Regions from separate parts of the Homo sapiens genome. Here all the other regions are reported to be linked to region 3. The links are microRNA targets in miRTarBase. Many come from high-throughput screens and were not tested one by one. Region 3 holds a microRNA gene; each other region holds the end of a gene's coding sequence.

The links. The annotated mature microRNA hsa-miR-6798-5p reads CCAGGGGGAUGGGCGAGCUUGGG and lies in region 3 at 2,049-2,071, opposite strand. An mRNA with a match to its seed (bases 2 to 7 or 8) in the 3' UTR can be bound and repressed. Matches are read on the target gene's strand: a 7mer-m8 pairs with bases 2 to 8, a 7mer-A1 pairs with bases 2 to 7 and ends in A, and an 8mer does both.
Region 1: miRTarBase lists ZBTB7B as a target of hsa-miR-6798-5p. Seed matches in the 3' UTR shown: 7mer-A1 at 1,398-1,404.
Region 2: miRTarBase lists BTG2 as a target of hsa-miR-6798-5p. Seed matches in the 3' UTR shown: 7mer-m8 at 1,551-1,557 and 7mer-A1 at 651-657.

Annotation. Positions count from the first base shown.
Region 1 is chr1:155,016,171-155,019,404 of GRCh38, forward strand. It overlaps ZBTB7B (zinc finger and BTB domain containing 7B), which reads left to right. Exons shown (of 3, transcript NM_001256455.2): 3 at 50-2,353. The coding sequence ends at 515. DCST2 (DC-STAMP domain containing 2) reads right to left here. Exons shown (of 15, transcript NM_144622.3): 15 at 2,357-2,590. The coding sequence ends at 2,374. Among named protein-coding and RNA genes, the nearest start is that of ZBTB7B, 15 kb to the left of the region's middle. RefSeq lists an enhancer at 1,105-1,249, a silencer at 1,146-1,615 and a cis regulatory region at 1,177.
Region 2 is chr1:203,306,819-203,310,063 of GRCh38, reverse strand. BTG2 (BTG anti-proliferation factor 2) reads right to left here. Exons shown (of 2, transcript NM_006763.3): 2 at 462-2,960. The coding sequence ends at 2,626. Among named protein-coding and RNA genes, the nearest start is that of BTG2, 2.9 kb to the right of the region's middle. RefSeq lists enhancers at 1,383-2,325, 2,670-2,909, 2,326-3,245.
Region 3 is chr19:49,008,737-49,011,981 of GRCh38, reverse strand. It overlaps MIR6798 (microRNA 6798), which reads right to left and starts at 2,076; the gene lies at 2,010-2,076. RUVBL2 (RuvB like AAA ATPase 2) reads right to left here. Exons shown (of 15, transcript NM_006666.3): 7 at 2,100-2,206; 8 at 1,916-2,009; 9 at 1,371-1,494; 10 at 889-983; 11 at 672-790. RefSeq lists a silencer at 44-218 and an enhancer at 2,041-2,542.

The DNA of each region.
Region 1 (3,234 bases), not on the chromosome of region 3:
GGGATCCCATCCTGAACACCTCCCTGCCCCTCACCCCTGCCTGTGCCAGGAACGACAAGCTGAAGATCCACATGCGGAAGCACACGGGAGAGCGCCCCTACTCATGCCCGCACTGCCCAGCCCGCTTCCTGCACAGCTACGACCTCAAGAACCACATGCACCTGCACACAGGGGACCGGCCCTATGAGTGCCACCTGTGCCACAAGGCTTTCGCCAAGGAGGACCACCTGCAGCGCCACCTCAAAGGCCAGAACTGCCTGGAGGTGCGCACCCGACGGCGCCGCAAGGACGATGCACCACCCCACTACCCACCACCCTCTACCGCTGCTGCATCCCCCGCTGGCCTCGACCTCTCCAATGGCCACCTGGACACCTTCCGCCTCTCTCTAGCTCGATTCTGGGAGCAGTCAGCCCCCACTGGGCCCCCGGTCTCTACCCCAGGGCCCCCTGATGACGATGAGGAGGAAGGGGCACCCACCACACCCCAGGCTGAAGGTGCCATGGAGTCCTCTTAAAGAGGGACGAGGGCCAGACTGAAGCAGCACAAGGCCGGGGACACCCATGCCAAGCAGTGGGAGCACGCAGGACAGACACAGCAGGGGTCTGGGGCACGGAGCCTTGCTGGCATCAGCATCAGCCCTTCCTCCCAGAGCCCTCATTCCAATTCCAAGCTAAGAAGGTATTGGGGCAGAGGCTCCCCAAATTGGGGTGATCCCCCAAGGAGTGATACATATATTGTGTATATATTTACAGCTGTATTGTAAAAGTGGGGTCCCTGTCCCCAGCTGCTCCTGGGGAGTAGAAGCAATAATGTATTTCTAATTTGTGGGTCCCACTTCGGCTATGCGGGTTTCTAGGGGGTGGGGGCTTGGGACCAAAGCCTTGCCCCGCCCCTATGCCCCTTGGGGGTTTTGGCTGTGTAAGGGGGTGAAGGACTGCCCCTCCCTTTCGAGACCCCTCCTTCCTGGTTTCTGTTCCTTTTTCCTGGCAGTGAATTATGCAAAGGGGGCCGGCAAAGGAAGGGTAGGTGGGGGAAAGCCAGGTGGAAGCTTGAAAGACTGGGGGACTGGGCCTGTAAGGAAGGAGCCATCCCAGTCCCCCTCCGCCCTGCTCCCGGCGCTGAGTCATGGGGTCGTGGAGAAGGGGGCGGGGTGGCCTGATTGGCTCGCCTGCCCCTGGGGGCAGTAGAGGGGCCCCGCCCAGCTAGGGGAGCCGCTCCGTTCCACTCCCCTCCCTAGCCCTCCCTCCCCACGGCCCTGGGCAGGGAATGTCTTGTTCCCGCCGCTCCCTCCCCGGGGCCAGAGGGCAGGGCGGGCCGGGCGGCGTCCTACCCTCTTCTCCTCCTCCCCATCTCCTCCCCGCCCAGGTGCGAGCCGGAGCCGCCGCCACCGCTGCCGCCCCTGACTCACGCCGCCCCCGGGCTGGCGCAGCGAAGGGTGTGGGACAGGGTAAGGGGTTGGAAGAGCCTTGTGGAGAGCGGGCGAGCCGGCGCCATCTGGCGGCCATGCTCTGAGTGGGCGAGCGCCCCCCGCGGCCACTGGAGCGAGCTGTCTTCACGCTCCTCATCCACCCCAGCTGGTGAGCGGCGCCCCCTTGCCAAGGCAGTGGGCACAGAACTTCTCGCTTGGCCGCAGGGGAAGGGGCTGCGGACCTGTGGGAAAGTGATCCCCTTCCCAGATCCTTGCCAGCCGGGCTTCCTGTCAGGCAGGGGAGAATAATCCCCACTCTGCTCTTAGGATTGAATCCACCCCCATTCTGTACATAGCCTCTTCTGTTGGTCTTGTTGAAATCTAGTTTCAGATTTTTAACTACCCAATTCTGCTGGGGGTGGGGGACACCCCCCCTTCCTCGCTGGGTGCTGGACCCCTTTTGCAGCCTGGGCTCTGCCTTGCACTATTTCCCCTTCCTGGCCTGACGGCTCCTCCCCCTCCTTAAAAGGGGCAGGTTCAGGGGCCCGGTGCTCTTCCTCCCTTCCATGCACCCCCATGCCCATTTGCACAGCTGCCCAGGTACCCCTAACAGTGGGGAGGGGTCACAGGGAGGGGGTAGCGGGACCAGTCCCTGTTATCTATTTAAAAAGTGATGATGTAATATATTGGGGTGGCGGGGAGATCGGGTTGTCCTGGGCCTCATCTTAGCATTTCAGGTGATGGGGGGAGCCCAGGGCTGGGGAGACCTGGGGCCCAGCCCCAGAAAGTGGGGACAATGTGGCCTCCCTTCTCCCTACTTTCGGCTTTCCCAGTCAGTGCCTTAGGGGGAGAGGCACTCCCCCCCTCCTATTCCCTTCCCCCCACCCCAACTCCCCCACCTCGGGTGTAAGCGACAGGAAGAAATAATAATAATTTAAGATTCACACTTGTGTCCACTTTTGGTTTATTTGGGGGGTGGGTGGGAAGGATCAGGAAGAGAGGGAGGTGAGAGAGGGACTGAGGGTTCTGAAGCTGGAGTGGGGGCTCCTTTAGTGGCGGAGGATGTCTCAGGTGGTCTGTGGGGCTCAGGGCTGGTGAGAATGCTGACAGGCTGATGGGCTTCAGGTAAGGGCTGCTGCCCGTGCTTCCTCTGCTGAGGCCCCTTCTCCTCATCCAGGTCACTAGTGAGGAGAGGAAGGGGGTGGCCGGATCACCCACCTTCTGTCTTCACAGGTGCATCCCTGCCCCCTGCCCTGCCCCATCTGTTCAGATCCAGCTCCTGTTCTTTCTGAGCAACTCCTGCTCTCTCAGGCCCACGAGGCGTACCAGCCCATGGCTGTAGATATTTTCTGATTTTAGGCTGATGCTGGGGGGTGGGCAGTGACTTGCCTGAGGCCACATGGCTAGGAAGGGCAGAATCACTAGTGACCTCAGTAGTCACACCTGCTCAAGGCTCAAGCTGTCCCCTCTGCTGACCCAGCTTATCCTTTCACTGGGCCCTCTAGAACCTCTGAAAAGAAAGCTTTGCTTCCCCTTCAACCTCTTGACTCATCATGACCTCTACCGCCCCATTCACACTGGAATGTGCCCACTGGACAGTTTTCTTTGCAGTCCTCCCAAGAGGAGGCAGCTTAACCTTCTCAAACCCAGCTGGCCCGTAGTGTTTTTTTGCAAAGCCCCTGGCTGCCATGATAGCTGTACCACCAGTGCTGTGGCTGTCTCCTCAGGCCTGCCAGACACCTGCCACATCTGTTTAAGATGCCGGCTCTGGACTCCTGCTGTTTGTATGGTCCTGCAACCTCGTCGCTAGAGGACCCACCCAATT
Region 2 (3,245 bases), not on the chromosome of region 3:
AGGGGGATCACTTGAACTTAGGAGTTTGAGACCAGCCTGGACAACATGGCAAAACCCCGTCCCTACAAAAAATACAAAAATCAGCTGGGCCTGATGGCACATGCCTGCAATCTCAGCTACTCAAGAGGCAGAGGTGGGAGAATTATTTGAGCCCAGGAGGCAGAGGTTGCAATGAGCTGAGATTGCACCACTGCACTCCAGCCTGAGTGACAAAACTGTCTCAAAACAAACAAACAAACAAACAAAACGGAGGGAAGTAAGGAGCTACTTTCCAGGAAAGAGGGGATGCTTGGAAATGGCCCAGCCATACAACCAGATTTTTCTTTTATACCACCCACATGCTATAGATTGTCTGAGTGCAAGTGAGGAGAAATACTATTAAACACAAAGAAAGGATTTGGATCTGAAAGGGAAACACAAATGTACAACGTGAGGATTTTAACTTCTCTACACCACACAAGTTTATCCTACTACATTTTTATTAAAGTAACAAAAAGGTGTACATTTGTCCATAAGCTGTACATTCTTCCATATAAAAACACTATCATACAATTAGTAACCTTTGTCTTTTCTGTCAGAATAGCTTACAAACATACTACTACTATTTATTTTTACTTAATAGGAGAGACAGGCCTGCTCAACAGTCCAGCTCAGGGGTTTTGTTGTTTTTAAAGTGAACATCATAAAGAAGAGAAGAGAGACAAGATTAAGCATGAGACCATGAGGCTGCTTCTAAAAAGGCAGGGACCTGTTTGCAGACAAGATGCAAGAACACAGCCTGCAGTGATTCACAGCTTTGTTTCAACCCACAAACCAGAAAATTAGCTCTTGGGTCTGTGGGCCCAAAGTGAACTTTAAAGCAATAAAGACTGGAAGCAGGTCTGGGAAGGCAATACAAAATGTGGAGAGTTGAAAAGGAGGCAGAGCTGGCAGGAATGGGTAGGGAGAGTGTTTGGTAAATAGCACCTTTGAGTCAAAATTGAGCAGTTTAGAAATCCAGGAAAGGGGACTGGCTGTGGGGAGGAGAACCTGGGGGTAGAGGAAGTGGGGTGAAGATTCCTCACTAAGGGGCAACAGCAGGAGGGTGGCCATCCTGGCCAAATGCCCTAGCCCTGTCCTTCTTAAGGTGATTCGGTTTGGGAAACTCGAGGTCTTTTGAGGACCCCTCATCAATGTCACTGAGAAATTGAAGGAAGGGAGTTTCTTCCCAGTGTAGCTTTCCACTTTTCTCCAACCCACAACAGTATATATTGCACAAGTCTACGACAAATTTGGATTGTACTGAGACAGACAGCAACCTTTCCCACAGGTGCTCTGAGCACCAGGGAGAAAAAACAGTGCCCAAGGTTTGGCTTTTATTTAGTGTCGGCCCTACAAGAATACCAAGTAGTCTTGCAGAACATGGGGCACTCTCCCATTCAGCCAAGGAATACATGCAAGGCTGACTAGCCAGCCATCATCCCAAGGAGAGCAGGAGAGATGGTTCCCTAAGCCCACCAGGGCATCAGGAGGTTCTGATAGCCAGTTTTCCTCCAGACCCTCCTGGGACCCAGGGGGCATATTGCACAGTGACTGAGAACTCTTGTCCTAGAAAATACGGTAGCTCTATGACCCGACCAGAAGGGAAGGGGGAGGGGAGGGTTAGAGGAGAGTTGTGCTTTTGAAAAGAAGGCAGTAATAAAGGACCTGGAGTTCCCTGTAGCTTTTGAGCCACCTCTCAAAGGGATCATGGCAGCAGCATCAAGACTTTCATGTGGTTCCAAAAGGAAGAGTTTTGGCCAAAAAACATCCCCAGTGGATACTCTTTGGGTCCCAAAATTTCATTGCAAATCACCCCCAAATTATTTGCCACACATACACACAAAGCAGCACTAGCAAAGCAAAGGTTTTGTGCAGAGTTCCCTTCCATCCTAACCCCAATAACCTCCAGTTCCCTCCTCCCCCCCCTCAGAAAACCCAAAGCTTTAGATTCCTGGCTGGAAAGCAACATCTACAGGCCCCTGAGGGTAGAATTAGAAACAAGTCATGATTTCAAGAAAAGCAGCTTAGGACAGTAGGAATCAGGAGAGGCCTTTTCACTCTCTGCCCAGGACCTCATTAGAAAAATAAAAGAAAAGATAACATAGTATTGTTTAAGTCCAGGCATGAATGCCCCTGAGTAATAGAGGAGCCAGGGATGCAGGTGTCTGGCTGGGGGAGACAGAGAGCTCTGAACTTGGCCTCTCTTCCTCCCCCAGGGCAAATCCCGACCTCTCTGTTCACAGTTGCTAACCTTGCTTGCTCCCTCTCACATCTTCCTGGGGTGCTAGCCAAACGTCTCCCACTTCTCCTTGGCTAGGTCTACCCCCTAACAGCTCCCCCTCCTATAGGCAGACACTGGCTCACAGACTCAAGCACGCAACAGTTCTCTCCAAAGGCACCTGGGGAGGCCACTTCCAAGCAGCTCCCTTGAAGGATTTTTTTTCTTAAAAAAAACTTTTGGTTTCTTTTCCTCCTTTCTTAAAAAAAAATAATATATATAAATAGCTCTTCATTTAAAAATACAGTTCCCCAGGTTGAGGTATGTGGTGGCCTGTTGTCACGGCAGCATGAGCACGGCGGCGCCCAGGGCGGGGGCGGAAGGGCCTAGCTGGAGACTGCCATCACGTAGTTCTTGGAGGGGCTGCTCCGGCCCAGCAGCACTTGGTTCTTGCAGGTGAGGAGCCCACAGGAGGCGGCCAGTGGGGCCTCCTCGTACAAGACGCAGATGGAGCCGTCCTCCCCAATGCGGTAGGACACCTCATAGGGGTCCACCCACAGGGTCAGCTCGCTGGGCAGCAGCTGGTGCAGCTGGGGCTGGCTGAGTCCGATCTGGCTGGCCACCCTGCTGATGATGGGGTCCATCTTGTGGTTGATGCGAATGCAGCGGTAGCCGGAGCCCTTGGACGGCTTTTCGGGAAACCAGTGGTGTTTGTAGTGCTCTGTGGAGACAGGACCAGGGGCAGATGCCCTGGTTAGAGCAGCTAGGCCATGGATACTACCATAGGGCGGGGTGGAGGGTCAAGGGACAGGAGGAGAGAAAGGGGCCCTTTAAGTAAGGGAGGTGGATTCCTCTGAGTTCTAGGACCCTCTTTCCACTTAGCAGAGAAAATTTTATGGAAGCTGGAAAGATCCACTTTCCTGCTTCCAGGACAAGTGTATGTGAGAGAGTGTGTGTGTGTGTGTGTGTGTGTGTGACTGAGTGTGTGTGTGTGAGAGAGAGAGTG
Region 3 (3,245 bases):
AGCGGGCATGGTGGCAGGTGCCCGTAATCCCAGCTACACAGGGTGCTGGCAACACCTGGGAGACGAGGTTCCCAGGCTTCAGCACAGCACAGTACCCTCTGTGTCACAGGAATCTGTCCCCGGCATCCTCAGGCCAAACACAACATTAAGAGTTCCCCGTGCACAGGGTGCTGGCAACACCTGGGAGATGAGGTTCCCAGGCTTCAGCAGAGCACGGTACCCTCTGTGTCATGGGAATCTGTCCCTGGCATCCTTAGGCCAAACACAACGCTAAGAGTTCTGTTAATGGAGTTGCTGGGTCGAAGTGACTGAACAATCGTAGTTTATGTTATGTCTAACAGATGTCACTGTGCTTCCCTCAAGACTAGAAAACATCCCACAGCACTCCTGTGAGTTTCCTGCAGCACCCTGGGGTGCCTCGGCACGCAGTTTGAAGACTGCAGCCTTGGGGGCTAAAGGAGCAGCAAGACAGAAAGGCAGCAAGAACACAGTCTCTGGGCTTCCTCGGGAAGCAGAGCTGCCTCCCACCCGCCTTTTGTAAGCAAAGAGCGCACACTGCAGTCACGCGTCCCTCCCTGACCCGGTGTCAACACAGGCTCCCATTGACCCTCTGACCACACCCACTGCCCAGAGCATCCTGTTTTCCCCAGAGGCCCCTGTAGCCGGCTCACCGCGTGATGCCACGGTTGGTGGCCATGATCAGGACAGGCGCCATGTCACTCTCCAGGGCCCGGTTGAGGAAGGAGAAGCTCTCGATGTCCAGCATGTGGACCTCGTCGATGAACAGCACCTTGGATTGGGGTGTGTGTGAGAGTCACCACCCGCGTCCCCACTTCCCCGGCCCACCTCCACCCCACCACCCGCCCCGGCCATGTCCTGGGTCCTCACTCCAGGGATGATCTCCGCCTTGCCCTCCTCGCGCCACTCAGCCACCTTGGCATTGATCTGCTCACGGACTTCTGACTTGATCTCCCCTGTGTCACCTATGGGAGGCACAGGTTGCATCAGGGAAGCCAGAGAGGAGGCGGGTTCCAGGGCCAGAGTGTGGCTAAGACAGAGAAGGATGATGCCAGGGATGGAGGAAGGGGAGCAAAGCAAGGAGGGATGAGGAGCCTGAAACATCCCCAAAGAGGAGGAACAGAGGCAGAGAACACAGGAGGGGAGAGGGCAGGGCCACACCCATCACAGCACCAGCAGGGGTGGGGACGGAGCGGACTTGCAGGTGGAGAACAGAGGCAGCCACGGGCCGGAGTTACAGGAAACAGCGTGGAGCAGGTGGGCCACACTCGGAGCTCAGGAACAGAGGGAGCCCGAGGGAGGCTGCTAGGCCTGGGGCAGGGCAGGGCAGGGCAGGGCAGGAGGGGCCTCACCTGAGAAGAGCGCCAGGAAGCCCTGGGTGCGAGAGTTGATGACGTCGATCTCGTGCAGGGACACGGTGTGCACCACCTCCTTGCGTTTCTGGAGCTCCCCATCTGGGCACTGCACGAACTTGGTCTATGGGGCGGGGGTGGGGGAAGAACGGCGGAGACAGGGCAGGGAAGGGCATGAAGGGGGCCCCTAAAGCCCTCTGTCTGGGGGAGACTGGAGCTCCAGGAAATGGAGCTGGGAGGCTAAATGGGGTCATCTGGAAACCCCAGGCCCAGGAGGTAGTCAGGACTAGGGACATTCCAGAGCGCTGAGGGTCACGGGGGCTCCCGGAGGACCTTAGAAGCCACAGGCCACATGTGGCCATGCGAAGCTATAGTGCCAGGCTGAGGGGCCCTGCTGTCCTAGGGTTACAGGGAAGACCCAGGAGTACCAGGACAAACAGTCAGGGTAACAGGAAGATCCAGACCCCATGGGTCAAGGGGGTGATGGAGGAGATGAAAACACCCCAGTGCTGGGGGCGAGGGGATCCCGGGAGTCCCGGCCGCACCTGGGAGCCCATAGCGTCGTAGTCGCGGGCGCGTGTGAAGGAGCGGCCCAGCTTGGAGATCTTGCCCGTCGCCTTGTCGATGGTGATCACGTCCCTACAGGGGGATGGGGGGTAGGGTAAGGAAAGGAATGGGCCCAAGCTCGCCCATCCCCCTGGCTGCCTGGCATGGCCCCTGACTGCTCACCCGGCCTGGACCTTGTCCTTGGTCAGGGACTCAATCATCTTGGTGCCCAGGTCGTAGATGGTCTCCATCTCTGTGGTCTTGAGGGTCAGTTTGCCCACCTTGGAGCCCTGAGAGTGGGGACAAGCCAGGGATGGGGCTCAGAGAGGGCCCTGATGTTGCCCCAGTGCCCCCAGTGTTGATAAGCTTCTGGCTCTGCTCTGGCCTCTGCTTCCACAGCTTCAAAATGGGCACAACACAAGGAAGCTCTCCAGGGAAGACATACGGTGCGCTCACCAGCCTGACGCGGTGATGGCTCCGCGGCTGAACATGTATGTCCCAACGGACCATACTGGACACTTGCAATGTGTACAGCTTTCTGTATGTCAATTAAAACTCAATAAAGTTCTTTTTTTTTTTGAGACGGAGTCTTGCTCTGTCGCCCACGCTGGAGTGTAGTAGCATGATCTCGGCTCACTGCAAGCTCTGCCTCCCGGGTTCACGCCATTCTCCTGCCTCAGCCTCCCGAGTAGCTGGGACTACAGGCGCCCGCCACCACGCATGGCTAATTTTTGTATTTTTAGTAGAGATGGGGTTTCACTGTGATAGCCAGGATGGTCTCGATCTCCTGACCTTGTGATCTGCCCACCTCGGCCTCCCAAAGTGCTGGGATTACAGGAGTGAGCTACTGCGCCTGGTGAATAAAGCTCTTTTTTTTTTTTTTTTTTTTTTTTTTTTTTTTTTTTGAGATAGAGTCTTGCTCTGTCGCCCAGGCTGGAGTGCAGTGGTGTGATCTCAGCTCACTCCAACCTCCATCTCCCGGGTTCAAGTAGTTCTCCTGCCTCAGCCTCCCAAGTAGCTGGGATTACAGATGTGTGCCACCATACCCAGCTAATTGTTTTGTGTTTTTATTATTTATTTATTTTTGAGATGGAGTTTCGCTCTTGTTGCCCAGGCTGGAGTGCAATGGTGTGATCTCGGCTTACTGCAACTTCTGCCTCCCAGATTCAAGCGATTCTCCTGCCTTAGCCTCCCAAGTAGCTGGGATTACAAGCACCCACCACCACGCCCAGCTAATTTTTTGTATTTTTAGTAGAGACAGGGTTTCACCATGTTGGTCAGGCTGGTCTTGAACTCCTGACTTCAGGTGATCCACCCGCCTCGGCCTCC